Homo sapiens: one gene and its partners. The protein of the gene in region 3 purifies or fractionates together with the protein of the main gene of each other region. This does not show direct contact. Each region holds a gene or a part of one and is shown on either strand. Other genes may lie near its edges. The genes, in order: CCT6B, STXBP4, WDTC1 and MIPEP.

What was found.
Region 1: the proteins of WDTC1 (region 3) and CCT6B purify together in Homo sapiens (co-immunoprecipitation; 3 studies listed by BioGRID and IntAct, with this or other methods). This does not show direct contact.
Region 2: the proteins of WDTC1 (region 3) and STXBP4 purify together in Homo sapiens (co-immunoprecipitation; 3 studies listed by BioGRID and IntAct, with this or other methods). This does not show direct contact.
Region 4: the proteins of WDTC1 (region 3) and MIPEP purify together in Homo sapiens (co-immunoprecipitation; 3 studies listed by BioGRID and IntAct, with this or other methods). This does not show direct contact.

What each region holds. Positions count from the first base shown.
Region 1 is NC_000017.11:34,930,363-34,937,937, forward strand, and holds part of CCT6B (T-complex protein 1 subunit zeta-2), read right to left. Parts: intron 2,139-7,575; coding exon 2,005-2,138; intron 690-2,004; coding exon 587-689; intron 1-586. UniProt on the Homo sapiens protein: Component of the chaperonin-containing T-complex (TRiC), a molecular chaperone complex that assists the folding of proteins upon ATP hydrolysis.
Region 2 is NC_000017.11:54,964,693-54,972,244, reverse strand, and holds the start of STXBP4 (syntaxin-binding protein 4), read right to left. Parts: upstream 3,481-7,552; 5' UTR 3,430-3,480; intron 1-3,429. Other genes in the region: COX11 (cytochrome c oxidase assembly protein COX11, mitochondrial), read left to right, coding at 3,599-3,964, 7,393-7,548. UniProt on the Homo sapiens protein: Plays a role in the translocation of transport vesicles from the cytoplasm to the plasma membrane. Inhibits the translocation of SLC2A4 from intracellular vesicles to the plasma membrane by STX4A binding and preventing the interaction between STX4A and VAMP2.
Region 3 is NC_000001.11:27,230,663-27,238,120, reverse strand, and holds the start of WDTC1 (WD and tetratricopeptide repeats protein 1), read right to left. Parts: upstream 3,490-7,458; 5' UTR 3,170-3,489; intron 2,925-3,169; exon of another isoform or gene 2,810-2,924; intron 1-2,809. UniProt on the Homo sapiens protein: May function as a substrate receptor for CUL4-DDB1 E3 ubiquitin-protein ligase complex.
Region 4 is NC_000013.11:23,837,094-23,844,668, forward strand, and holds part of MIPEP (mitochondrial intermediate peptidase), read right to left. Parts: intron 4,396-7,575; coding exon 4,242-4,395; intron 2,634-4,241; coding exon 2,556-2,633; intron 664-2,555; coding exon 459-663; intron 1-458. UniProt on the Homo sapiens protein: Cleaves proteins, imported into the mitochondrion, to their mature size.

The DNA of each region.
Region 1 (7,575 bases), on a different chromosome or scaffold from region 3:
ATGCCCCTGCATGATCTGACCTTCTGTCACCTCTCTCACCTCCTTCCTCAGAAACATCAGACACTGGCTTTTCCACTGGCTGTTCTCTTTCCCTAGAACACTTAACCCCAGTTGCCTACATGGCTAATTTCCTCACTTCCTTCCACTTTTTTTCAACAGACATCTAGATGATGCCTACCCTGACCAACCCTTTAAGCTGTCATTCTCTCTCCACCCTCCTGTACTAGCATTCATGATCATTATTATAGCACTCTTTTTTCCATATAATTCATTACTTTTTCTAAAATGCTGAAGGAGTTTATTTATTAAAGTTATTATTTACTGCCTACCTTCTCCCACTACAACATAAGCTCCCAGGGGCAGATATTTTTGTCTGTTTTGTTCTGTGTGAAGCCCAAGAGGAAAACAAGCACTCAATAACTATTTCTTAAATGAATGAACATTTTTTAAGAAGCTCAAAAATAAACTAAAGGCATCCAAAATTTAAATATTAAAGTTACCCAAACCTCTACTCCTTTACCATAAGATCTGGGTAACTAAAGAATAACCTCTTTATTAAGCAGCTAATTTTCCTTCACTTTCTTACCTGTATTCAAATCTACGCCCACAAGTTGTTTTGACTCGACATGCTCAGCCTGAACTTTTACTAATGTTTCCTGTGGGTCATAACCAGCATTCTGAGCAAGAACCTTTAGGAATAAAAATAATAATATATATTATATATATATGCATAATACCTTCACATATATCAAATATAAAAATACTCTTTACTCTTGTAAAAACACATCCATAACATGGCAATCATCTCCTTTTGAAGAATTCCACTTTTAATCTAAATCAAATTATTATTTCATCTATCTAGTAGTTTTTATATTTACTTAAACATTTCCCCTATGCACGTCACACTAAATTCTGAGGACATCAGAGTTCCCCCATTTTTACCCTACTACATTAATTTCCCTCCTTGCAAAAGGTTTGTTTTGTTTTGTTTTGTTTTTAGTATGGAAGGAAGTAGAATGATATTCTTGTTTCCTCTAGTGCCGCTAGCCACATGCCCTCCAGTTCTTCATAGGCACTTGCTAAGGAAACCAGAATATTTGCAGCACCTTTGTGCCCCTCATCTTCATGAGGAGAGTCACGACCTGTGGTAACAGGGTTGGAGATACCTGCACTCCAAACCAGGCTCACTTCCAAGTGGCCCCAAATCACCAGCTGATGAGGAAAAAGGTACCACCAATGTAATGTGTACTGGGGTTACCAATTTCTGTCAGCAGCAGGATCATACTGACTTTGCTGCTCTGGGGAAAGAAAAAATAGCAAATCTAATTCACAAAGATTTCACAAATTATGAAAAATTTTAATAAAAATTAGCAAAGAGATTTTGCTAACATTGTTAATAATGTTTTAATTCATGGTAATAGCATCTTTGAAGTAGTTTTACTATATTTCTAAGGTGGTTTGAAACCAATTAAGGCAAAGACAAAGGAATGGTCGCTTTCTGTCCTTAGGTTGCCACATGGAAAAATTCTGTTTTCTCTTTTTCTAGGAATTATAATGATGATGACAAATGTAAGGTTGTATCTAGGAGTGCTAAAGAGCCTCAAGCCCTCCCTCTCCACAATTTAAATTGATTACATTTGGATACCACTAACAAAACAAAGATGTACCACAAAATCTAACTAAATTTTAAATTCTAAACTTTTTCATTATGATTAGTTAATCATGAGTCATTTCTGAAGGAAATTTTTGGAGCTGCTTTAATTTTTGGAACTCAGAGAAAGAAGCAAGGGGGTAAGTTGGCTATTTCATGAGATCGTGCAAGGATCCTGGGCTGTTATCGCAAAAGTTTCCCTGCTTTAGTTGTAAAATATCTAAGAGAAAACTGTGTAAGGAAATGCACATAAATACCTGTCTACTCCATTAACTATCAGATAATATGGGCAATTTGTAATTAAACACCTTTATGTCTAAGCAGTTGTTATTTGGCCGAAAGGGTAGTTGTACCTTGGGAATAATGAGTAAGGCATCAGCAAAAGCTTGGACTCCAAGACGAGCTCTTCCTTTTATACTGTTCTTATATGTAACAAGAGCTTCAGCCATTGCCACTTCAATTGCACCAGCTCCAGGAACCATACAACCTATTGGAGAGAAAAAATATGATTGGCAAGACATGCCATAAAGACCAAAAGAGAGAGAGAGACAGAAAAGCAATTCACTATTTAAGTATGTTCTATTATCTACAGAAACCAAATAAATTGCACAGCTTAGTAATTACTCAGTTATCTTATGAAACATCCTGAAGTTATATGTCATTAAATAAATAGGCATAGTACAGATAACTGGCTGCAAACAGCTTATTTTGCTCCTTACCCTCTGGTAAACAAGAATAATTTATTTTTACCTTCATCTTACTCTTTTATAACTACTTTTTTTTTCTGAGATGGAGTTTTACTCCATCACCCAGGCTGTACTGTAGTGGCATGATCTTGACTCACTCCAACCTCTGCCTTCCAGGTTCAAGTGATCCTCCTACCTCAGCCTTCTAAGTAGCTGGAATTACAGGCGTGCACCACCACACCCAGCTAATTTTTGTATTTTTAATAGAGATGGGGTTTCACCACGTTGGCCAGGCTGGTCTTGAACTCCTGACTTCAAGTGATCCACCCACCTCCGTCTCCCAAAATGCTGGGATTACAGGTGTGAGCCACCACACCCGGCCTTATGACTACTTTTAAGAGGTATTTATAATTTATATTGACAGGTAACTGATTACAATATCTGACATGAAAATTCTTTAGACCAAGATCATTTGTCTAGTTTTTGATAGGGAATTCTTGGAACTCAATGAAGTATTTGTTTTTTGTACTGCAGCAGAACTCAAACTGCTATCTAAGAAAAAATTTAAGTGGTATTATTCTAAAGCAAGAGTTTTGGTTAAACACATCAAATTTCACATCAGGATATCACTTTTATATCTGCTACTTGTATGGTTTCATAAAGTTTATGACTCTTATTTAAATCAGAAAACTTGCTTTAAAACAAAACAATACGAAAACAATCTCCCCTTTTATCTCACATCATTTTAAAATTACTACCCCCTTTCACTGCTTCACTTCACAACATAACCGCTCAAAGAGTTGTTTACCCACCAGATGATTACATCATTACCTCCCATTCACATTTTTTAAAAGTTCCTTGTTAAATACAGAATATACTCAAAAGAATATTTATATGTATGATATAAAGAATAAATGCACAAATAAACAAATGTATCCATGTACCTACCACCCAGCTTAAGAAAGAGATTACTAGAACCTTTGAAAACTTCCCTGATCCCATTCTCTGTGAAAACACAACATATCAAAATTTTAGCATCCCTAAAGCAGTACTTAAAGAGAAATTTATATCACGAAACACCTATATTAGGAACGAAGAAAGTTCTCAAACTAATGACCCCAGCTTCCACCTTAAGAAACTAGAAAAGGACAGGGTCTGGTGGCTCGCTCCTATAATCCCAGCACTTTGGGAGGCCAAGGCAGGTAGATCACTTGAGCCCGGAAATTCAAGACCAGCCTGGGCAACACAGTGAGACCCCATCTCTACAAAAAACACAACAATTAGCCAGGTTTGGTGGCACACACCTGTAATCCCAGCTACTTAGGAGGCTAAGGTGGGAGGACTGCCTGAGCCTGGGAAGTCAAGGCTGCAGTGAGCCGTGACCATGCCACTGCACTCCAGCCTAGGTGACAGATCGAGACTCTGTTTCAAAAAGAAAAAAAAAAAAAAAAAACTAAAAAAGGAAGCACAAATGAAACCTAATATAAGCAAAAGAAAGGAAATAATTAGGATGAAAGTGGAAATTAGTCAAATGACAAATGTCAGAAATGAGAAAATTTATATCACTACAGATTCTACAGATATTAAAAAGAATAACAAATGAATATTATGATCGACTTTATGACAATAAAGTTGAAACTGTTGATCAGAAGTTAGTAAACTTTCTGCAAAAGGCCAGTTAATATTTTTCAGGCCATACCATTTCTTTTCCAACTATTCAACTCTGCCACTGTAACACAAAAATAGCCACAGACAATATATAGACAAATGAGTATGGCCACATTCCAACAAAACTTTATTTACCAAAACAGGCAGCAAATCAGATTTAGCTCATAGATAGTAGTTGATGATCCTAACTTAGATGAAGTGGACAAATTCTTGAAAGACTACAAACCACTAAAGCTCACTCAAAAAAAACAAAACCTTTATAGCCCTACGTCTATTAAAAAAATTGAATGTGTCATTAAAAGCTTTCCCACAAAGAAAACTCCAGGCTCAGATGGCTTTATTGACAGTCTACCAACATTTAAGAAAGAAATAATACAAATAATACCAATTCTCCACAACAACTTTACACTTTCAGAAATTTGAACAAGAAGAAAAACTTTCCAATTCACTCTATGAGTACAGCATTGTTCTAACACCAAAAAAGATAAAAGCATTACAAGAAAAAATATACACAGACCAATACCCCTTATGAATACATATGTAAAAATTCTTAACAAAATTTTAGCCAATTAAATCAAATAATACATAAAAAGGAGAATACACATAGTACCATTATTCACAATAGCCAAAAGGTAAATGCAACACGTTTCCAATAATAGACAAATAAAATGTGGTATATACATACAATAGAATATTATTCAATGGTAAAAAGGAAGGAAATTCTGGCACATGCTACAACATGAATGAGCCTTGATGACACTATGCAAAGTGAAATAAGCCAGACAAAGGACAAAAACTGTATGATTCCAATTATATGAGATACATAGAGTAAACTCATAGAGACAGAAAGTAGAATGGTGGTTACCCAGGGCTGGGGAGGTGGGTAGGGAATGGAGAGATATTGTTTAATGGGTTCAGAGTTTCAGTTTTGCAAGGAAAAAAAGTTCTGGAGATGGGTGGTGATAATGGTTAGACAACATTGTGAATGCACTTACTAACACTGAACTGTACACTTAAAAATTGTTAAACTGTAAATTTTATGTTATGTATATTTATCACAATTTAAAAAATAATTTTAAAAAAATGTAATCCATTAATTTTTTAAAAAGTAAAATGCATTATAACTAAGTATGGTTTATCCCAAGAATGTAAGGTTTGACATTTGAATCAATCAATGTAATTTACTGTACGAGAAAACTAAACGAGGGCTGGGTGCAGTGGCTCAGGCTTGTAATCCCAGACCTTTGGGAGGCCAAGGCAAGCAGATCACCTGAGGTCAGGAGTTCGAGACCAGCCAGGCCAACATGGTGAAACTCCATCTCTACTGAAACATACCAAAATTACCCTGGCATGGTGGTGCATGCCTGTAATCCCACCTACTCAGGAGGCTGATGTAGGAGATTCGCTTGAACCTGGGAAGCAGAGGTTGCAGTGAGCCAGGATTGCGCCATGGCACTCCAGCCTGGGCAACGAAGTGAGACTTCATCTCAAAAGAAAAAAAAAAAAATCATATGATCATCTCAATAGATGCACAAGAAGCATTTGGCATTTATTCTCGTGTGTGTGTGTGTGTGTGTGTGTTTTGACAAAAAACAACAACAACAAGAAGTTTTACTCTTGTCGCCCAGGCTAAAGTCCAGTGGCACGATCTCGGCTCACTACAACCTCCACCTCCCAGGTTCAAGCAATTCTCCTGCCTCAGCCTCACGAGAAGCTGAGATTGCAGGTGCCTGCCACCATGCCCAGCTAATTTTTTTATTTTTAGTAGAGACAGTTTCACCATGTTGGCCAAGCTGGTCTTGAACTCCTGACCTCAGGTGACCCATGCACGTCAGCCTCCCAAAATGCTGGAATTACAGGTGTGAGCCACCACGACCAGCCTGGCATTTATTCTTGATTAAAAACTGTCAGCAAACTAGGTGCAGAAGGGAGAACTTCCTCAACCTGATAAAAACCTATAGCTAACATCATACATAATGGAGAAAGATTGAATGCTTTCCCCCTAAGATCAGCGATGAGGAAAGGATGTCCATTCTCATTATTTCTAGTCAACATTATACTGGAGGTTCTGGCCCATGAAATAAGGGAGAAAATTTTAAAATATCCATATTGGAGAGCAAAAAGTATAACTGTATAGCAGACAATGTAATCACTTATATAGATAATTCAATGAAGCCTATAAGAAAGCTAATTGTGATTTAGCAAGGTTGCAGAATTCAAGATCAATGTACAAAAATAAAATATATTTCTATATATTAGCAACTAACAATCAGAAATGGAAATTTTAAAAATAGCATATACAATAGCAACAAAATACATAAAATATATAGAGATAAATATGGAAAAAAGTATGTGAGGCTCATATACTAAGATCTATGAAATATTGCTGAGATAAATTCAAGAAGACTCAAATAGATAAGATGATATTCATGAGTTAGAAGGCTCATTATTAAAATATCAACTATCTCCAAATTGGTCTACAGATTTAATAAAATTCCAATCAAGCAGGGTGTAATGGCTCACACCTGTAATCCACGCACTTTGGGAGGCCAAGGCGGGAGGATCGCTTGAGCCCAGGAGTTTGAGACCAGCCTGGGTAACAACATAATGAGACGTTGTCTCTACAGAAAATAAAAAAAAATTAACCAGGCATGGTAGTGCATGCTTGTGGTTCCAGCTACTTGGGAAGCTAAGGTGGGAGAGTCACTTGAGCTCAGCAGGTCAAGTCTGCAGTGAGCCATGATCACACCACTGCACTCCAGCCTGAGTGACAGAGTAAGATCCTTTCTAAAAAAAAAAGTTCTGATCAAAATCCCAGCAGCAGTCTTTTTGGTAGAAATTGACAAGCTGATTCTAAAATTCATATGGAAGTCATATGGAAATGCCAAAGACTTAGAATGACCAAAATAACTTAAAAAAAAAATGAGAGTTAACAATACTGATTTCAAGATTTATTATAAAGCTACAGTCGTCAGGACAGTATGATATTAACATTAAAATAGACAAATGCATCAGTAGGACAGAAAAAAGAGCACAGAAATAGAACCACACAAATATGAAAAACTGATTTTTTATACACGAGAAAAGGCAATTCGGTGGTGAAAGTAAAGTCTTTTCAGCAAATAAGACTAAAACAATCTGATACCTTTATATGAAAAAAATGAACTTGTATCCATACTTGCACCATATACAAAATTTAACTTAAAATGAATCACAGACCTAAATGTAAAACATAAGACTGTAACACTTTTAGAGGAAAATCTTTATGACCCTAGGTTAGGTAAAGATTTTTCAGATACCACACCAAAAGCATAATCCATGACAGAATAAAAATAATAAATTAGACTTCATCAAAATTAAGAACTTCTCTTTGAAAGGCACTGTTAATAATAAAATAAGCCACAGAGGAGAAAAATTTGCCAATTATATATCTGAAAAAGCACTTGTACCCAAATTATATACAAAGAACTCTCAAACTCAACAATAGTATACTAACACAAATTTTTTTCTTTTCTTTTCTTCTCTTTTTTTTTTTTCTGGAAACAGGGTCTCACTCTGACGCCCAGGCTG
Region 2 (7,552 bases), on a different chromosome or scaffold from region 3:
TACAAAACACAAAGATTCTCCCCACAAAACACACATTGCCTATTAATTTATGAATGTGACATATTTGCTAATTCACCTTGTAACAGAGAAACCTGGCAGACCCAATCTTAAAGAAACAGAAGTTAACATCATGAAACCACGGAATAAATTGAGATCATGTGATGCCTAAGAGGACTCACTGATTGAAGCACAGCATCTCCTCTAAGATATTCCTGTCAAGGGGTCACAAACATGAGGAAACATCAGACAGACCTATATTGAGGCACATTTAATCACGTAACCAGCCTGTATTCCTCAAAAATGTCAAAGTCATGAAAGATAAGGCTGGGTGCGGTGGCTCATGCCTGTAATCCCAGCACTATGGGAGACCAAGACCACCTAAGGCCAGGAGTTTGAAACCAGCCTGAGCAACCCAGCAAGATCTTGTCTCTCAAAAATAAAAATAAAAATAAAAATAAAAAAGGAAAGAAAAAGACAAGAAAAGACTGGCAACTATTCCAGATTGAAGAAGACTGAAGAGGCATGACAACTAAAATCAACGAGTAATCCTGGATTAAATCCTAGATCTAAAATGGAAATGATTGGGACAAATGGGGTAATTTATGTAGAGTCCATGAATAACATGATGTAAAGAATTTAATATATATCCCCCAAAATCCATATGTTGAAGCCCTAACCCCTCAATGTAGCTGTATTTGGATTAGGAAGTAATTATGGTTGAATGAGGTCATAAGGGTGGGAACCTGATCTCATGGGATTGGTGTCCTTATAAGAGACATAAGAGCTCATTTACTCCAATCTATGTAAGGCCACAGCAAGATGGTAGATGTCACAAGCCAGGGAGACCCCTCACCAGGAAGTGAATCAGTTGATACATTGATCTTTGACTTTCCAGCCTTCAGCACTTTGAGAAACAAGTATTTCTGTTGTTTAAGCAACCAGTCTGTGGTATTTTGCTATTGGTAGTCCAAGCTGACTACATATGGTAATACTGGATAAATATTAACTTACTGATTTTGATGCCTGCTCTGTGGTTTGGAAGGAGAAAGTGTTCTTGTAATAGGAAATAAACAAGTAAGTATGCAGATAAAGACTGAAGAATCTTTATCATTCTCTAATCTTGGTGAAGGGTATACAAGAAATTTGAGTACTATTATGTTGCAGAAATATTTTAAATTGTTTAATATGTTTGTTAATTGGACATTGAACTAAATTATGTTCTACACATTTCATTCAAAATATAAGTAAAAAACCAAAATATTTAGTTGTCATTCAGAAGTATTTCATAAACATGAACTGTCATTTCACATTATCATACTAAGATCAGATACAATGCATATTTTCTTTTATTAAAGTAGAAAGCTACAAAGACCAACACCACTTCATTGCTATCAATATCACTGTACATAAGAGTTTCATTTTGCAATTATTATACAAAAAATGAAATACTGGAGTCCAAGACAAAGACTGTATACTGACATATATTTATACTGCTACCTGGAGCTACAAAGAAGGGGTGCCTGGAGAAACAGAATGGTGAGTGGAAATGTACTGTTGGTATCAAGGATTTCAGTCTATGCTGTAAGAAAATTAAACTTTGAGAAATCTCATCCTAGAAGAGCTGAGAATCTGGTACAAGAACCAAGGTGCATGCAGATGAAAAAGATTTTCAAACACTGTCATCACACAATATGAATAAATTTGTAGAATCATGGAGACCTGAAATTTTTGAGACAGTATGCCAGAGTATAGAAAGAAGTCAGAAGGTATTTATATTTTATTGGTTCTGCAATTTTCTGGCCCTGTGACCACAAGTTAATCAATTACTCACTCAAGGTGACCATCATCACTCATGTGGACTACTGCAATTGCTTCCTAATTGTTCTACTTCCATTCCTCCCCCTACCTTTAATCCATTCTCCACAAAGTAATCAATATCTTTTCAAAAATGTGAGTCAGATCACATCACTTGTATGTGTCAAACATTCCAATAGCTTCCTATTACTTTTAGAATAAAATCCAAACCCTTGGACATGGCTTAAAAGGCTGGTATTACCAGGCCTTTGTTACCTGTTCTGACCCCATTTCCTACCACTTTCCACTCTGCTATGTTGGGAACACAGTGGCCTTCTTTCTGTTCTTCAATCATTCTATCTCTTTCCTTCCCCTGGGCCTTTGCTTGGCCTGGAATTGTTATTGAGTAGGTAGCTCCTTATCATCGTTCAGATCTAAACTCAAATGTCACCTCTTCAAAACGTCCTTACTTTACTACCGCTTCTCATGACTGTCAATCATACTATGTTATTACATTGTCTTCACTGCACTGATTGTTATCTGAAATTCCCTTATTTCGGTAACTGTTACTTGATTATTTTCTGAGTCCCTCAGCAGAAAGGACACTCCATCACTGAAGTGATCTCCCGACTTGTTCTGTGCTATAGTGCCAGCAGGTCGATTGGTGTCAGGCCCACAGTTGAGAGGGCAATAAATAAATAAAATGTCGAATGACTAGTTAAAATTTCTCAGGCCTCCAAGTTCCTCATCCACATAGTGGGGATAATTATACCTGCTCTGGCCATTAGAAATGGCCACGTAGCAAGTAGAAATACAGCCTAACTTTTAACTACATTCTTACTATGCCTCAGTCATCATGAAAGACGTTATATGAATATTATTCATTTACTGTTCTGATTTCCATTTTACAAGTAAGGACACCAGGTCTTAGAGGACAAGTAACTGACCTAAGGGCACAGGGCCATGGTGAGGACCCGGGTAAAAATCCAGAACCCCCTAACCTCAGAACCTGAGCTCTTAACTGCTATTTTATAGTTTCTAGAAAGATGCTTCCTTCTAACACAGTAAAATCCGCTATGCTGTCTGCCCCCCTCGAGTTCGTCCTGTGGGACAACTGAAGAAAGCTATTACATCCTCCCACGGGGTTCGTTTCTTTCAGTCTCTCCTTAAATGGCCCTCCTATCCTGGTCACTCTCTCCAGAACAAACTTCAGCGTGACAGCCTCCCTCCTGCTCCAGCTGTGGTGCTTTCCACTGGGCAAGTTGTAAGGGGCATCAGAGCAGGGGAAGCCGACTGCCCACGGGCTGAGAAAATGCAGGTGTCGTGGGTGCCCATGAGGGCTGCGGTTAACACAGCAAGGCTTCCTGAGAGAGGTGATACTTGAACTAAGTCCAGGGCAGTGAGCACAGGAGCCAGCGGCCAAGGGACCCCAGGAGAAAAGACCGCGGGAGAGCGTCGCCGGGGCTGCCGGGTCGAGACAAAGGCTGGTGGAGTTTAAATAAAGATCACAGGCGCAACCCCAAGTGATGGCAAGCTTGCACGCGGACGGGCGAAACGCATTTTCCTAAATGTTAAGAGACGTTCTGGCGAGAAGCGAAGTGGGAGTAACAGTCACAAAGCAAAACGCAAACTTACCCGTAATCTGGCAACCCGGCCTCCGTAGCCCGACTGCAAGCGCTGCCACCTGAGGAGCCTGGTAGCCAAGGCAGCGGCAGGCTCAACCCAGATCTCGCGAGACGGAGCACGCCTCGCGAGATTTGACCTCTCGTCCCTGAGAGGCGGGTGGGTGTTAGTTCAGAGGGTTATGGGAGGGCTCTGGCGTCCTGGATGGAGGTGCGTTCCTTTCTGTGGCTGGCGCTGGATCCACCCTGGGTCTCCAACCAGGGCTGCAGAGAGGGTAGAGCCGTTTCTTAGGCCAGAGTGGAGTGGGACAGGAGGTGCCGAGAGAGGACTGAGGTGGCTTGGGACATGGAAGCGCTGCAGCCTTCGAGCCCGGCATCCAGCATTGCAGCCGCCGCGGCGGCCTAAGAGCTCGAACCCTTTCACACGCGCGCAGGAGGAGGAGCGGCGGCGGCAGAACAAGACGACCCTCACTTACGTGGCCGCTGTCGCCGTGGGCATGCTGGGGGCGTCCTACGCTGCCGTACCCCTTTATCGGCTCTATTGCCAGGTAGGGGCCGGCGCCGCCCGCAGGGTGGCGCAGACGCGAGAGGTGGGGGTGCAAGACAAATCCCGGGACAAGCCCTCGCTCTGCGGGTCGTAGGTGGAAGAGGTTTCCGATATTATCTACCTAAGAGGAGAGAGGTTCAAAACAGTCACTTAACACCCAAAGTCACCAAAGAAATTGGTGACAAAACTGCAAGTAGCATCCAGTTCTTAGTGATTGTGCTTATACCATGCTGCAGAGTGAAACCCCTGATCTATGAACTGCACCTCGCCAAAAAAAAAAAAAAAGGTCCGCAGCCTCTAACCGGGTATCTAGCAGTCTGCCTTACCCTCCTGCGCACACACGCTTTTAAAATGTATTATTCATACATTCACTCTGCAAACCACATGTGGTTTATGTGCCAAGGGTAACTCTGGAAATTGGACTACTCGTGTTTCTTGGGCTTAAACTGGGATTAGCAGTTCCTCCGTACAAAGAGGCATGAATTAGGCCTTTGAGGCTCTCTCGCCCCACCCCTGTTAATATATAACTGTAATGTACTTAACCTGGAAACTGTTAAGTACATTGCAACGGTTCTGGGAGTGTGGCGCCCAGGACCGGCAGCATCAGCATCACCCGGGAACCTGTTAAAAGTGCAAATTCTAGGGCCCGACTCCAGGACTGAGTCAGAAACACGGGGTGGGGGGGTGGGGCGGGGAGAAGAAGGGGAGTGGGACCAGCACTCTATATTTTAGTTAAGTCCTGTAGTTGATTTTGAGGGCAAGTTTTGAGAACCACAGGCAAAGACAAGTTTCACGTATTTTAGAGATTTCTCCTTTGTTCTTAGCTAATAATTTGCAGCTTTGGCTGGCCATTAGGATCACCTATGGAGCTTAACGTTAAATACACGTTCCAGGGATCCCCTACCCCAGAGATTCTGGTTAGGAAGTCTAGGGTAGGGACAGGAATTTCGGTTTAAAAATCATGCCACAAGTGATTCAGTAAGTGTTTAAGATAGTGGCTCCCAAAATTCATTGTACAGCAACATTGGGAATCACCTGGACAGCTTCTAAAAATCCACACACATTACCCATTTTATCACAAGGCCACAGTGGGAACCAGGCATCAGTAATTGTCAAGTATGTTTTAGGTGATTCCAGCGTGCAGGAAAGTTTGGGAATTGTTTTTTTAACACCATGACTGGTATTCTTAGCTGGAGTTCACTCTTTCCGTGTGTGTGTGTGTGTGTGTGTGTGTGTGTGCGCGCGCGCGCACGTTTATTTATTTAAATTTGTAGAGACGAGGTCTCCCTATGTTGCTCAGGCTGGTCTCAACTCCTGGGCTCAAGTGACCCTCCTGCCTTGGCCTCCCAAAGTGCTGGGATTACAGGCGTGAGCCACCATGCCCGTGGAAATCAATTTACCTTTCTTTTAGATGATGAAGCAGAAGACAAAAGGACTTTTCTTTTCTGGCATAGTCTCCTAATGCCAGCATTTATGTGGGAATGTGCAATAGTTGATTTTGAGGATGAGTATAGAATGTGAATTACTTTTCATCAGAGACCAAGCCCAAGCATGAATTCTAAAACTACCAGTTGGTTAAATCATAAGCAGAACTGAATCCAAATCAGCAAATCTAGATCCTTCTCAGACCGCCAGGAGATTTTTGCCCCTCAGGGAACATTTAGCGATGTGTGAAGACATTTTTGGTTGTCACAACATGGAGGTGGGGGTATAGGGTGCTACTGGCATCTAATAGGTAGAGGCTAGGAATGCTACTAAATAACCAACAAAGCACTGCCTCACCCCCAAACAACAAAAAATTATTCAGCCCAAAATGTCCATAGTTCTAAGATTGAGAAACCCTGCCCCAAACTGAAATAACTGATAATATTGCGTGTGAAATGTGCCCACATGCAATCATAGATCAGGAAGCCAAATGTAATTTGTAATCTATCAGGTTCTTAGAGCTAGTAGCACAACTAGAATAGAGACCAGGACATCTTTTTAGTGCTGTTTTCTAGTCTTTTTGTCTATTTTACTTTAGGCATTGAACTTAGAAATTTGAACCCATATTCAAAGACTATATTGGAATCTTTATTGAGGGAGGACACTTAAAAGTATTTTTATTTAAGTGACTTAAATTTTTTAGTAAAAGAAGTTACATCTTAAACACAGCACTCAGGCAGAAGGATAAACAAGGATAAAGGCTTGCCCTCTGATGCATCTTTTAGGGATATAATGTAATTCAGTAATGTTGCATGGCAGTCAAATGAAGTTAGTTGACTTGCGTAACAAACAGAGAATGCTAAAACACTGTATCTTGCTGGGAGTCTTCCCCTAGCCTCAAATTTGTTTTTTGTTTTTTCTTCCTAGCATAGTAACAGGCAAATTATCCAGAAATCAGAATTCTGGCAACCTCAAGTATCAGAAGAAAGATGACCTTGGAAGTAAGGGCGTTTTTTTTTTTCTTTTGAGATGGAGTCTTGCTCTGTTGCCCAGGCTGGAGTGCAGTGGTGTGATCTCGGCTCACTGCAACCTCCGCCTCCCGGGTTCAAGCAATTCTTCTGCCTCAGCCTCCCGAGTAGACCTGGGACTACAGGCGCGTGTCACCACACCCGGCTAATTTTTTTCTATTTTTAATAGAGACGGGGGTTCACTGTGTTAGCCAGGATGGTCTCCATCTCCTGACCTCATGATCCGCCCCCCGTGGCTTCCCAAAGTGCTGGGTAAGGGCTTTTTTTAAAAGTGATGTCAAGGAAATAACTGTCATGAATAAAAGAAATGTCAGACATAAATACTCTTGATGCCCTATGATTATTTCTGTGGCCATAGGGATTAGGTGCTCTGATTAGTGATTTATATAAAAGCTCTACTATACAGAGAAGTACAGAAAAGATTCAAAACCATTAACCAACGTGGGAAAATACCTGTGATACCTTAGAAAAGCAGAATGTTAATAAAAGTGAAGCTACAATCTTATTTGGATTATAAAAGCTGTGATATGGAAAAGGACCAGACAGGAATATGGAAAAATTGAGTTAAGTATTTTCAGTGGAATTACAAGGTCATGGGTAAATTTTATTTCTATTAATGAAATACTAGCAATAAAGGGAAATGTGTTTTTTATAAATGGCTAAGCTGGAAATTGTGAGTTCGACTATCAGTGATAATAGTTGACTTATCTAGTGAACCTGCTTTTCCCAGACTCATTTTTGACCATGCCAGGTAACCAAGGGATTGCTGAAAAATAGGAATGACTTTAACAAATACAGGCTCATGACATCCCAAAAGTAGTCAGATTCTTGACACAGTTACAGCAATGGTCAGTTACCATATGTAAACTTGGCTCCAAATGGATTATAAATACTACATTGTTTTTAAACTTTTATCAAATAAATAGATCATCAACACCTAAAAGTATTGTTTAACATATTTGGTATCTTTTTCTAGACTACTGGACTTGGAGGATCAGCAGTTGCAGGTCATGCCTCAGACAAGATTGAAAACATGGTGCCTGTTAAAGATCGAATCATTAAAATTAGCTTTAATGCAGATGTGCATGCAAGTCTCCAGTGGAACTTTAGACCTCAGCAAACAGAAATATATGTAA
Region 3 (7,458 bases):
AACTTAATTTCTCTGAATCTGTTTCTTCATAGGTATAATAGGGAAAATGATTCTCACCTCACAGGACAGTCATGAAGGTTACACTGGATAAAGTAAAAATACTAGCTAGCACTGAGCTCAAGATATACCAGGCCCTGAATAAAATGTCAGTCACTTTTTAGGACATATCCCAACTGGCAAATACCTCTCAAAGTAAATTAACTACACCAAGGAACTGGCTTCTTTCTTTTTTTTCTTTTCTTTTCTTTTTTTTTTTTTTGAGATGGAGTTTCACTTTTGTTGCCCAGGCTGGAGTGCAATGGCACGATCACAGCTCACCGCAACCTCCACCTCCTGGGTTCAAGCGATTTTCCTGCCTTAGTAGGAAAATCCCTCCTGAGTAGCTGGGACTACAGGCGCGTGCCACCATGCCCGGCTAATTTTTTTTGTATTTTTAGTAGAGATGGGGTTTCACCGTGTTAGCCAGGATGGTCTCAATCTCCTGACCTCGTGATCTGCCCACCTCAGCCTCCCAAAGTGCTGGGATTACAGGCGTGAGCCACCGCGCTCAGCCAGGAACTGGTTTCTAATAGCAACTGCCAGAACTTTGGCTTTTCAAGAGATGACAGCTAAGAAAGTACAACCTAAGGGTTTTGTGGGCCCAGCAATCTGCAATGGCAGCCTAAAGATACAGTGGAGCATCTGGAAAGGTGAGGTGGAAAGAAGAAAGGAAACAGAATAGATAACTAAACCAGTGACCCAAAGAAAACACAAGTATCACCAGATTACATGTTCTGTTTGACTTCCTCTCTGAGACTCAGAACTGCACATGTCAGCAACATTCCTTAATTTTTAAAAAGAGAGAAGAGAGTGGTCACGGAGGCCGTGTCTGTAGTCCCAGCTACTAGGAAGGCAGAGGTACGAGAATCCCTTGAGCTCAGGAGTTTGAGACCAGCCCAGGCAACAGAGTGAGACCCCATCTCAAAAAAATAAAAATAAAAGGAGAGGCCAGGTGCGGTGGCTCACACCTGTAATCCCAGCACTCTGGGAGGCCGAGGTCGGTGGATCACGAGGTCAGGAGTTCAAGACCAGCCTGGCCAAGATGGTGAAACCCCATCTCTACTAAAAATACAAAAATTAGCTGGGCATGGTGGCAGGCACCTGCAATCCCAGCTACTTGGGAGGCTGAAGCAGAGAATTGCTTGAACCCAGGAGGCTGAGGTTGCAGTGAGCTGAGATCGCGCCACTGCACTTCAGCCTGGGCAACAGAGCAAGACTCCATCTCAAAAAATAAATAAATAAATACATACATACATAAAGGAGAAAAAAATAAAAATAATTAAAGACCAAGTCATAGTCTAGATCTTCCTTAGCAGTTGGCCCAAGATCCACAAATGTTTGGCAGTGGGCTTCAAGATTTTCAGTTGTCTTTCCAGATCCTAAAGTCTAGGTGTGCAAAAACACCCTACATAAGATGCCCAATGAGTCAATACTGAACTCCTCCCGGCTAAAAAAAACTGTCAATTGTATGAAACTGGTAAATAGTTGTTAACATCATCATCATAATATTTACACGTGTTCTCTCTTTCCCTCGTGACCCTCAATGAAGGTGTCCCAGGCAGAAATATGGGCTACTGCTCAATTATTCGGCAGAGTTGATCCAAAAGCACTGTTCCTTCAAATTGAGATAAGACTCGAACAGAAGTGCTCCCATATAGGTCAAAAAAGGAAAGGAGAGCAGGACTCCAGCCTTAAAGCAGCATGATCACAAACTATGACGGAAAAGGTCATTTCCCACCTGCCAACGAAATACAACAACCTACAATGAAGAAACCTCAGTAAGTCTCAGACTTGGCCCAAAGGAGCCCAACTAGTTACTCCCTGGTCTGTTACAGAGGATCTGGCTATTACACTCAACAGCAAAAATTCAATTCAATCCCGCTAAAGATATAAGAATCACAAGGAAGAATAAGCCAGAACTCAAGACAGAAATAGCATTAAGTAGTTCCTTCAGTACAGTGAGCAGAAGCTGGCCACTCAACGACTCTAAAAGACACAGAAAAGCTTAGTAGGGACCACTGGGCATACCGGTGTCCTAGGTGGGGATTTCGTAACGTCTTTGAGTCAGAAGCTGCCCTCAAAATAGTTTCTTCTCAAAACGGTTTCAGGCTTTGTTAGAAAGGGAAGACTTCACTGCCACTTTACCCAGATCATCTACCCCATCCTTGGAATGAATGGGGAAGCTTCAGCCACCCTACCAGGCTCCTAAAATCACCAACTTGAGAGAAAAACTATAACGTTGCTCTACCAGTACTTCAGGAGGTTAAAGAAAGTCACAGAAGAAAAGAACTCTGGGGAAAACAGTCAAATTCGGCTATTAAGACATTAGTTACAGGCCCCTGTACCTCTCCTCTAGAAACCCTGGGAGTACACCCGCAGAGGAGAGAGAGCCCAAGCCACCAAGCAAAGTCAACCAATCTGGCAAAGGGGCGTCCCACTGCGGCTTTCAGTCCAAGAAGTGGATCCTGCTGGTTCGCAGTCTCTCTTCTATCTCCTCACTTCCTATTTACCCTTTGAAGTGGGTACTGAATAGCCCGTTCCCAAGCAGAGGCCCTTTGTATACGGGGTGCTACAGTCGCCTGGTGGAAACACCTTGGCAGAGTTGTTTGGTGCCAGGATGGGCCACTGAAGGCATCTGCTGTGGACACACACACACACACACACACACACACACACACACACACACAGAAAGAGAGAGAGAAAAACAGAAAGAGAGAGAGCGAGAAGCTAAGAGGGCAGGTCAGGTCGGCGTTGCCCTCCCAGCACTTACACCTGCCCCTTCTTCCTGACTCCGGCGCCAGATCAGATGTCAAACAAAAACTCCGCAAAAAAGTCCCATGATGGAATGACTTCCACCTCTCCCTCCGCAGAGCCTCCCCGGACTCCCACAGCCTCCCCCCGCGTCCCGACCAAACCCTCCGCCCCCACCCCGCCCCCGGACCACTCTGCCCTCCGCCCCGGCGAGGCCTGGCCCCTCTCGGGACACCCGGGGCCCCGAGGCGGGTAGGCTCAGGCCCCCAGGCCGGCAGGGCTGGAGCCGGCCCAGAGCGGGCGGCCCGTTCACCGGGGCTGCGGGAGCCGGTCCCCGCCTCGGCGCCCGCGGAGGGCAGGGGGCGGCGGTGACCCGTACCTGTCAGGTCTCTTCCCCCGACCGGCAGCGGCGCAACTTCAGGAGCCCATGTCCGTCCGGGGGGGGCGGCCCCTCTCCCGGGAAGGGGGGCGCGGATCCCGGGGAGGGGGCTGGGGGGCTCGAGCAGTTCTAGCCCCTTCCCATGCTCCCCGCCCGGCGCCTGGCCGGGGCCGGACAGCGCCTCCGCCCGCCCCTGCGCACCGCCTCACACCCGCGCTCACACACACTCACACTCCCTCGCGCGCTCTCACACACGCACTCCCCTCCCTCCTCCTCCTCTGTTTATCTCCTCCAGCTGTCTGGGGACCCAGGAGAAGCCCAGCAACGCGCCTGCGCCACGCAGTCTCCGCCTCCGCCCTGCGCCTCGCAGCCGGCGGGTACGCTACGAAGACTGCGCCCGGCCGCTTCCAGAATGGCTAGCCGGGCCCCCCCACTTACCCCCCCGCGCCCGGTCAACGTCTGCTGCCGGCGGCGCCCACTAACCTGCTAGTGGGGGAGCCCCGCACCGCCGTGGCCAATGGGCTTCGCCGCTTGCGGGACCGGCAGCCAGTGGGCGGGCGGGAAAGCTGGGCTAAGCCCTGGGGCACCCTGGGAGTCGTAGTTTTTCGCCGTCGAGGAGTTCCTGCAGAGCGGGCTCACCCCGCCCGGTTGCCATTAGTTACCCGGACGCACCTCCCACCCCACCACCGGGTAAAACGCTCCTCACACCGCTTCTGGGACACCCGCCCACACGCTCGCCCACTGAACCCCAGGTCCCCTCACAGCCCCTTAAGAGCTCCTAAGACTTCCTCTCAGCCCCCGAATTCTGGGACCTCTCAGGCTAGGGCCCCGGGGGGCTCCTCAGCCCACTCCTTCCTGCTCTGGGGGGCTGCTGAAGTGGCACAGTCCTCACTGACGTCTCCTGGGCCTTAAGGAAGAGAATGAAAGAGAATCGGGCCTACGCTGAGTAGCCTGGAGAGGAGTCAGCCACACACACTCTGGGTGCCCTCGGGGTGATGGGAGCGACTAGGTCCATCTGACCCTAGCGGAGTCACTGCTGCTCCCACCTCTGAGGAAGAGACGCAGTTCCAGCCTTGTGGAGTCCCGGGTCTGATGGAGGAGAGACCCTCCTCTTTATTAAGGAAGTTCCCAAGGTGACAAGGGTGGCACTAAGCCTATCTTCTTAAGGCAGAGACCAGGCCCCACCCGTGAAACCTCAAGTCAGAAAGGGAAGACGTGTCACCTTCTGACAAAGGAAACTTGTCACCCATAGGGTGCCATTTGTCAGATACTAACAATAATTCACTTTTATTCGCACTGGATTGGGTACAGTCTCTTAGCTAGGTACTATTGCTGTCTGTGTTTTGCAGAAAAGGAAAGCTGAAGCAGAAAGGCTAAAAGCAACTTGCCCCCGGGGTCCTGATAAGTTGGCAAATTGGGAATTAGACCCAGATCTGCCTGACACCAGAGTCTGAGCCTTTTAACACTGCCTGTCTTTCCTGTGAAAACCAGACAGCACCCGCTCTCAGTAAGGACTGAATATATGTATTTGGCATTTATAGTGTTTATCACTCCATGTGTCGCTTGTTTTTTTTTTTTTTTTTTTTTTTTTTTTCCAATTCTGCTCACATCATGAGTACGAATTTGTCTGTGAATACCTGAATACTCCCAGAGACAAAGGTAGTATTCTAATTGCTGGTGATTTCTCCGCAAGGGAGATTTCTCCCCATTTAGAGGAGTAAGAACCTATCCTTGTGAAACCGCTCACAAAGCCTTTTATGCCTTTCTCCTAAAAATATTGTGGGTCATTCCCCCTGAACTCTCCACCACAGCTGTTCTACTGAATATAAAAAATCATAGACTTTGGGACTAGAAGAAAGCTTTGAGATCATCTATCTGCAGCTCCCCAGGTTCAGGCTGCAACCTTGGTTAGGGTCATTGGGTTAATTAAACTGAATAATATCTAACATTTATTGAATACTTACCATGGGAGATAAGTGCTACTAGTGAATTAAGAAATACTCCCGGGCTGGGCGCGGTGGCTCACGCCTGTAATCCCAGCACTTTGGGAGGCAGAGGCGGGCGGATCACGAGATCAGGAGATAGAGACCACCTGGCTAACACGGTGAAACCCCATCTCTACTAAAAATACAAAAAAATTAGCCGGGCGTGATGGTGGGCGCCTGTAGAACCAGCTACTCGGGAGGCTGAGGCAGGAGAATGGCGTGAACCCGGGAGGCGCAGCTTGCAGTGAGCCGAGATCGCGTCACTGCACTCCAGCCTGGGCGACAGAGCGAGACTCCGTCTCAAAAAAAAAAAAAAAAAAAAAAGTAAAAGAAAAAGAAACACTCCCGGCCGGGCGCGGTGGCTCACGCCTGTAATACCAGCACTTTGGGAGGCCAAGGGCGGGTGGATCGCCTGAGGTCGGGAGTTCAAGACCAGCCTGGCCAGCATGGTGAAACCCCGTCTCTACTAAAAATACAAAAATTAGCCGGGCGTGGTGGCGCGTGCCTGTAATCCCAGCTACTCAGGAGGCTGAGGCAGGAGAATCACTTGAATCCTAGAGGCGAAGGTTGCAGTGAGCCGAGGTCGTGCCACTGCACTCCAGCCTGAGCAACAGAGAGAGACTCCATCTCAAAAAAAGAAAAAAGAAAAGAAAGAAAGACAGACTCCCACAATCACATAGCTAGGAAGTGGTACAGTTGGGATTAAAGCCTACACTATTCAAATCCAGAACCCTCATTTTTAAATCATTTTAGCATCCTGTGTTTTTGGCAGAGACCACCCCCCCCCCCACTTTTTTCTTCTTTTTTTGAGACAGAGTCTTGCTCTGTCGCCCAGGCTGGAGTGCAGTGGGGCAATCTCTGCTCACTGCAAGCTCTGCCTCCCGGGTTCACACCATTCTCCTGCCTAAGCCTCCCGAGTAGCTGGGACTACAGGCGCCCGCCACCAGTTTGTCATTTCATTTAGTACAGACGGGGTTTCACCGTACTAGCCAGGATAGTCTCGATCTCCTGACCTCGTGATCCACCCGCCTCTGCCTCCCAAAGTGCTGTCACTACAGACATGAGCCACCGCGCCCGGCCAGAGAACCCCCATTTTAAAGTCTTGTTTAATGCTGGCAAGGTCACAGAGGATCTTAGATATACTGATAGAGAAGAGTGGGTGATGTTTCTGTGACTCCTAGCACAGTCTATGGCACATAGCAGAAACTCAGTAAATATTTGTTGTCAGAATGAACTTTCGTTGGTAGAGACTGATGACAGGAAGAAGACTATTTCTTTTGAGACGGAGTCTTGCTCTGTCGCCCAGGCTGGAGTATAGTGGTGCAATCTCGGCTCACTGCAACCTCTGCCTCCTGGGTTCAAGCGATTCTCCTGTCTCAGCCTCCCGAGTAGCTGGGACTACAGGCACATGCCACGACGCCCGGCTAATTTTTGTATTTTTAGTAGAGATAGGGTTTCACCATAATTGGTCAGGCTGGTCTCAAACTCCTGATCGCAGGTGATCCACCTGCCTTGGCCTCTCAAAGTGCTGGGATTAGAGGCATGAGCCACCTCGCCCCACCAGGAAGAAGACTATTAACAACTGCAGTTACTATTTATTATTTTCTAATAGATACCACTCGTACTCTTACACTTGCTTGAGTTTCTCTCTTTCTCACTTCCTCTCTCTCCATATAGGCAGAGACCTATACATAAATCTATACATACATATGTGTACACGCACGCACACACACCCATATACATTAACACACACTAACTCATTTGCTTCTCCCAACCACGTTGTGAGTTAGGTATGATTCTTACTCCCATTTTACATAGAAGAAACAGAGACTCGGCCAGGCATGGAGGCTCACGCCTGTAATCCCAACGTTTTGGTTCCAGACCAGCGTGGGCAATACGGCAAAATCCTGTCTCTACAAAAAATATAAACATTGGCCAGGCGCGGTGGCTCACGCCTGTAATCCCAGCACTCTGGGAGGCCGAAGCAGGCAGATCACGAGATCAGGAGTTCGAGACCAGACTGGCCAACATAGTGAAACCCCGTCTCTACTAAAAATACAAAAGTCAGCTGGGCATGGTGGTGCGTGCCTGTAATCCCAGCTATTTGGGAGGGTGAGGCAGGAGAATAGCTTGAACCCTGGAGGCAGAGGTTGTGGTGAGCCAAGATCACGCCACTGCACTCCAACCTGGGCAACAGAGCAAGACTTCGTCAAAAAAAAAAAAAAAAAATTAGGGCAGGCATGGTGACTGGGCCGGGTGTGGCTCATGGCTGTAATTCTATCACTTTGGAAGGCTGAGGTGGGA
Region 4 (7,575 bases), on a different chromosome or scaffold from region 3:
CTATGATTTTATACAGGGGAAAGTATATGAAAAATTAAAAGGACTTCATCATACTTTTTAAGCATGCTTTATTTTCTTCTCTGATTTTGAATATAAAGAGAGACCATTCATTCACTTACTTATTAACTCTGTGGGAGGTATTAAGGAGATACGTTTTTATTCACACACACATAGCCACAAACTTAAATTCAATATAAAACACTGTAAAATGTAAAAAGGGACAAACTTGAAAGACAACTGAGATTATTCCCTGGTGAAAGCTGTTAGCAAGCATGGAAAAAAGCATGGAAGATCAGGCTGCACAACCATGGGGAGGGCAGGATGAGGCAATCTGAGATAAAGACCACAGGACACGGTAAAATGATCACATTTTCCAAATAAAAAGCCCCTTTCCCAATTCAAAGAAAATGTATGTTTGTAAAGGACTGTAGTAAATAAAAGCCCTCCTCATGGCTCACCAGTGACGTGTTGGTAACGAGTACGTCCTAGCATTGAATGCATGGCATGTCCCATTTCATGGAAAAGATTTTCCATCATGCTAGGAGTTAGCAAAGTTGGAGAACTCCTTGAGGAACGGGGAAGATTCAGCATAAGAACTACAACTGGGAGTTGATAGTCTCCATCTTCCTTTAGTCTGCCTCCACGGATAGTGAAATGGCAATCCTTTAAGAATCAGAAAACATAAAAGGAAAAGAAAGTATTTGGTAATGTGAAGAGTAAAACAGTCTTAATGAATATAAAATTTCACCAAAAATGTGTGAGTGCAAACTTTAACTTAATTATATTCTTATTCTATCTATTTACATATATACACCTTTTCTTGACATTTTTTATTCTGCTAAAATTTTAATTTTTTAAAACATCAAGAACACATTCAGTTTCTATGGATTAACTCATTACTTTGGTCCCAAAACATGCATTGAAATGATGCTGTGCCAGAAGCTGGAAACAAAGTCAGCAAAGAACTTACGAAGGGACACTAACATTTATTCTGAGTCCCTACTATGTGTCAGATAATGAACTAGTAGGTACTTTCCATGTCTCTTGGCTATTTTTTTTTCTTTTTTTAAGATAGGGTCTTGCTCTGTTGCCCAGGCTGGAGTGCAGTGTTGTGATCGCAGTTCACTGCAGCCTGGACCTCCTGGGCTCAAGCCATCCTCCTGCTTTGGCCTACTGATTGGCTGGGACTACAGGTGTGCTCCACCACACCCAGCTAAATTTTTAGATTTTTTTTTGTACAGATGGAGTCTTACTATGTTGCCAGGGCTGGTCTTGAACTCCTGGACTGAAGTGATCTGCCAGCCTCAGCCTCCTAAAGTTCTGGGATTACAGGCATGAGCCACCGCGCCCAGCCTCTCTTGACTTTTATCACTTGAACGAGATGGGATCTAAACTAGTGTAAAGCAAGGGATCCGGAGCCAGAATAACTTACTCTGAAACAGGCACTACACTGAGACTCACATACACTGTATCACTTATTCTCCACAACAACCCTATGTAGCAGGTATCTCACTTTTCAGATGATAAAACTAAAACTAGTCTTAGGATTATTAAATAACATGTCCAAGGACACCTAGCTAGAACTGCCACACCTTGGATCTGAACCCAGGCTGACTATTAGGAGCCAGGGCTCCTAATCACTAAAGTTGAGTCTCCACCACCCACCCATTTAAGCAAAGAGGAAGAACACTGGCCTCAGAGTCTGGTGACCTGCACCCTGTTCCTACCTTTCACACCTACTAGACAAATCATCTCGGAAAATAATTTGCTTCTGCAAGCCTCATCTCTAAAATGCTTCCTTGTCAAATCCCACAGTGGCTGTCCAGAATTCATAAGCTCACATCTGTTAAAATCTGTGCTTTGGAAATTGTGAATCACTATTCAAACATAAGGTACATTATTTCTGTTATAACTTATAACCTAAACTCTTGACATTTCCCATCAAGCTACATGAAACTGCTAAAGCTGACTGGCTGTCAAAGTCGGCCAATGCTAAAGAAAAGGAGATGAGCTGCCTCAAGTCTTCCACATAAGGAGCTACTTGGTGGTTGGTAAGGTTTCCACATGGAGTATCTTCCGCAGTTTTAGAATAGGTTCATTGTCGAGTATGGAAAAGAGTTAAAAGTTGGGGATCTGCTCAGGATGTATGCCTTCAAGTCCTAGCACTTCTGGCCAAGTAGCTTAACCTCTATGGCTTCAGTTTCCTCATAATGTGAGTAACTAGTCAAAAGGGTGAGGCGAACATTAAAAGGCTGATGTGTATAACGGGCTCAGTGCACTGTTTGGCACAAATAAGGATTCATAAAATGTCAGTTGTCATTGTTACTATAATTAATACCATGACCCAGATAAAAGTGACAAATATAGACTGATGTAATTATTTCCATAAACTTTTTAATTTTAAAATTCTATCTTAATTTCAAATGTATATATTTGGTAACCATCATTAGTAACTTTTAAATGTCATGGAATTTAAAAAATGATACAAAGTTCACATCAATACAAATGAAATGCCGATCGGTTCTAGAGAGACCAGTTTATAAAGAAAGGATCACCTGATGTGGTTTGTCTGCTCGCTGAAAAAAATCACAGTAAATGTACCCCAACAATCCTTCAGATTCATGAACAACAGCCTAGAAAAAAAAATTTAAATTTGGTGGTAAATGAGGCCATCTGATTCTCTAAAATCCCTAACACAAGAATCTGTATATTAAACATCCATAGCCACACATATAGACATTTTAATTACATTCTACACCCCACATTATCTCGAGATAGATTCTCTTTTCCCCGCATCCTCTTCTGCTCCATCTCTTGAATGATTTTGGTTTTGGAATTCTGTGTCCAGGACAGGAAATCCTCCTCATGAGGGCCTTTTGTCCTGACTGCCTATCCTCTACAATACCTTTACTAACCACCCACAAGAGCTGGGAAGAAGTGCTGGCTGGACAATTTTAGGAGCAAATTATTTTTCCTTCAAATCCTGGAATGTCGTGATATACGCCCAAGCAAATTATAACCCTTGAATTTGAAAACACCACAATGCAGCTCCCAGCTTGAGTTAAAAATCAGCAATATTACTATCTATCCCCTCTCCAAGAGACATAGCTTATAGGAGAGACTCAATCACTACTCTCCATCTTGCCTTCTTTGTTCTTTCAGAATTTAATGATTCCATCAAAGAGAACCCCGATTTTGTGCTTTAAAACTACCTGCAAGTATATATTTATTGTTCATCAAACATCTGTTAAGCACCTACTTGGTGCCAGGAACTCTTCAAGACACTGAGGATACAGAAGTGAATGCAACTGACAACAGTGCTGGACCCCGGTGGAGTGCACATTCTGCAGTTCTGGGGAAACCCTTCATCACCCGCATTTTGTCCTCTCAGTCTCCTCTTATAAATTTTTCTTTTTATTATATCTCAGCATTTTATCAATCTCTATCTTTTTTGGAAGTTTGTAATACAGATAGTGAAGTAAATCAATGCAGTGATGAACGTCCTCCCACCCTGACTCTCCTTTCAATCCCACCACCACACCTACTCTCCACTCACAAGACGTGGCCGAGAGACAATGAGACTGTTTACATTTCTTAAAATATAGTGAAGAAAGCAGTGTGGTAAGCATGCTAGCAAAAATCAAACAACAAAACAATACAAAGCCTTAGTGACACACACAGGTCAACAAAGCCTCAAATCCTATGAGGAAAAATTTAAAATATTCATGCCTCATATAAAGTGGGCCTTCACAGGAGAAAGATGATTGCTAGGTTTGAAGTTATTATCAAAGAAGTTAAATAAATCAGAACACGGACGTAAATTAATATCTGATGCAAATATAAGCCCCTACAACATGGGATGGGGGTTGGAGAGAAAAAAGGTCACTTATCCAATGGATTTGGGAATTAACCAAAACGGACACACAGCTATGAAGGTATATACAAAGTAAAGGACAATTTTCCTATAAATAGAATTTGTGGATATATGAAGGTGCATATATATTCAACCTTCTATCAAGTTCCAAAAAACTTTTTTAGAAAACTCTGCTGTTTTATGTTTGGATCCTTTATACAGTGTCTTAAATCAGAAGTGCAATTTGGATTTTTTTTGTGAAGCAGAAATAAGGCAGGGGACACACTCAGTCAGGGCAAAGTTGATGTAAACCTGAAACTGCTGTTGACTCAACTGCCCAACCGAAAGGTAAATGCCTGCAACTGCAGGCTGAGCAGGAGGAGCTCACCAGTTTTCGGACATCTTCGCTCCACACCTCTCCTTTTGCAGGCTGCTCTGCATATAATGAAATCCCCAACAGTCTGTTAAGCAAAATATTCAGGCCTTCCATGCATGCTCCAAGAGAGAAAAACGGGCAATATAGGCTGGGCTCAATATTATACCTAAGAGAAGGAAGAGAGGTTCAACAGCATCTTTGTTTATTTCAATTTCTGAAGGTAAATTCAATTAACTTTTCATTTAATACTTAAGATCACTGGAGCTAAAGAAGGATTCAAAACATAAAAGTGTATTTATATCATTTGAGGGGTTTTCAGACAGTTTTCTTCAGAATGACAGTCTGATTATTACTAGTGTTAGTTATAAGTCAGTAATTAAGGTAGATATATCATTCCCTAACCTTTGTCCCTTCCCTGTTATTTACTCTTTCACTAACCCAATTAAGCAGTCTCAACTGCTCACTGTATACATTCCTTATACATACTTACATGCAAAATATGATCAGTTTCAGTTATAATGGTAACTCTTACCTTATGAATTATATTCTAGAAACTTGTGACCTATATACATAAATATTAAATGAATAAAAATCCTGAGGCACATTAAGTGAATTTAAAGTTCTCATCCAGTAAAATATTCATTTATGAAAAAAATGCCTGCAATATAAATAATCAGATCTTATCTGTTTTATAGTTAGATATCTTAAATTAAAGACAACGTAACTAGTAAGGTGAATTATTCTTCACCCAAAAATAACTTTTTCTGTTCTATATATTCCAATATAAACCAAAGCAAATCCAAAATACGTGATTTGAATGTTTACATTTGAATCATTAAGTCAAGCCAAAATATATAGCCATAGCCAAAAATAATGGCTCTAGAATATTGTAGGTTCTCATTATATGTCTACTTTTTAGGATTACCAAAATACACATTTTTTTTTCAATTGGCTTTATTTGTGATTCTAGAACTGCACAACACTTCGTTCCATAAAATGAGTCCCCACAACAAATTTATATATAAAAATATAAAAACATAGTTACTAATAAATGAATGAGTTTAGTAAGTGAACATAAATTGCACAACAAATGAGACTTTGGCTATGGACATCCACAAATTTACACCTTAATTTCTGACTGATTTTTCTTTAAACAGAATCCTAGTGTTGAAAGAGACGTTCATGATCCAGTGCCCTCGCTCCCTGGTTCGTTCACTCAAGCATGCTGTCAGCAAACCTGCGGGGTGCTGGAAGAGAAGAATGAAGAGCCTTTGTGTCTAAGCAGCTGGCACTGAAAGAGGCAGAGAAGTGAACCAACTACACTGTGTCCTGGGCCTGGTGCAGTGGGCACACGGCTGGCGCTCAACAGACAGTGCTGAAGCATGAACGAATGAGCACTGCAAAATGGGAGGGCAAAGGAGAGCATGATGACTTTACTTGTGGAGTGCAGAGTAGCACCAGGGAAAGCTTCTCGGATAGGAATCAAGAAAGAATCGGCCGGGTGCTGTGGCTCACGCCTATAATCCCAGCACTTTGGGAGGCTGAGGTGGGTGGATCATGAGGTCAGGAGTTCAAGACCAGTTTGGCCAACATGGTGAAACCCCGTCTCTACTAAAAGTACAAAAATTAGCCGGGTGTGGTGGCGGGTGCCTGTAATCCCAGCTACTCGGGAGGCTGAGGCAGAGAATTGCTTGAACCCAGGAGGCGGAGGTTGAGTGAGCCACGATTGTGCCACTGCACTCCAGCCTGGGCGACAGAGCAAGACTCTCCATCTCAAAAAAAAAAAAAAAAAAAAAAGGAATCAGACTTTGCAAGGCAGGGCTGGGATGAGGAATGGAAAATGGGAATCATAATAGGAATTCTAGGCAGAAGCGACAGTATAACTAAAGTATGATGGCATAAAATAGCCTGGTAACTTCTAGAAAGGATGTGGTTAAAGATGAAGCAGTTACCAATGCAGGGATAAATGTAGAAAGAATGGGAGCGGAGTCTGGAAAAGGCAGGCAGGGGCCAGAAAACAGAGGGCCTGGTCCACTAAGCTGAGGAACTGGGACCATGCACCATAGGCCATGGCCTCTAAGCTTCCTCACCAATGCACACTAAAATAACTTTTGAGTATTCAACCTTCTATTAGTACACTCATAAAGTATATGCATGTGGTATTGTTTTATCACATTGCAAAAAGAAAAGCAGACATTTTTATAAGTTGAGATAAAGAAAAATAAATATACATAGAATTTCTAATATTTTATGACTACACTCTCAATGAATTGCTTACAGATGCCATTTGGGAGACAGCTTCTGTAGGCCATAGGGGAGCATCTGATGTTTTCTGGAATGCTGCACAGTGGACAGCATGGAGGGTGGAATGCAGGAGGCAGGGAGGGCTGACAGGAGGACAGACTTCCAGGCTTCAGAGGGTGAACTCTGACAGAGGGCAGTGGGGTCAGGGATGAATGTGTTTTTCCTTTGAGATGCAAACGTCTCAGGACTGTGTGAGTGATTGGATTTGGAGGGTGATGAGAAAGACAGAACAATCTAGAATAACACTCAGGTTTCTGGCTTGGACAAATAAGTGGATGGTAGAGTCACTGAATCAGCCGGCACAATGAACACAAAAAAGGAAGAGGGGAATCTGGGTGTGTTTGTGGGAGAAGAGAGGAGGGTGAGGTGCAATGATGGGAGGAGGATGGAGGGCTCACAGAAAATAAACTCCATTTTGGAGGAACCGACTGTGAAGTGCCCATGAGATACCAGACACTCAGGACCCAAAGCTAAGGAGAACAAGGAGACTTCACTGTACAGATATTAGAGCCATAGAGGGAGACAGGGCCATTAGGGAAGGGCGATGCGGGCAGAGAAGGTAAAGGGCAGACCCCTGAACTACCAGAGGGAGGGGTGGGAAGGAAGACACAGAACAGTTCAGAGGTACTGAAGAACTGAGAGAAAGGAGTGCATGGAAAGAGGGGAGAAAATAAACTATAAAAGGAAGTGGTCCAGGCTTGAGGTTTCCACTCCTGCACATGAGGAGGTTGAAAGTCACCACTCCATCCTAACAAGCAGGAAGCTGAACAAGCTGAAAATCAAGAATCTTCTTAGATTCAGCAGAGAATCAAGGCCACAGAGCAAACTGCTGCCCCCAAAACTGGAAAGAAAGGCAGGCAGCCATAGAGAATCACAGCTTACCAGAGCAGAAACCTCCCATAGAACCTACTACCAAGGCAAGAAAGTTTAAACTATAATTGGTTATAAAAAGCAATTCATTTTTTTGTTTCCAGACAATAAAAACACAAAAATAAAGGAGAATAAAAAGAAACTTTACATATTAAAATTCTACCCTTCTTAA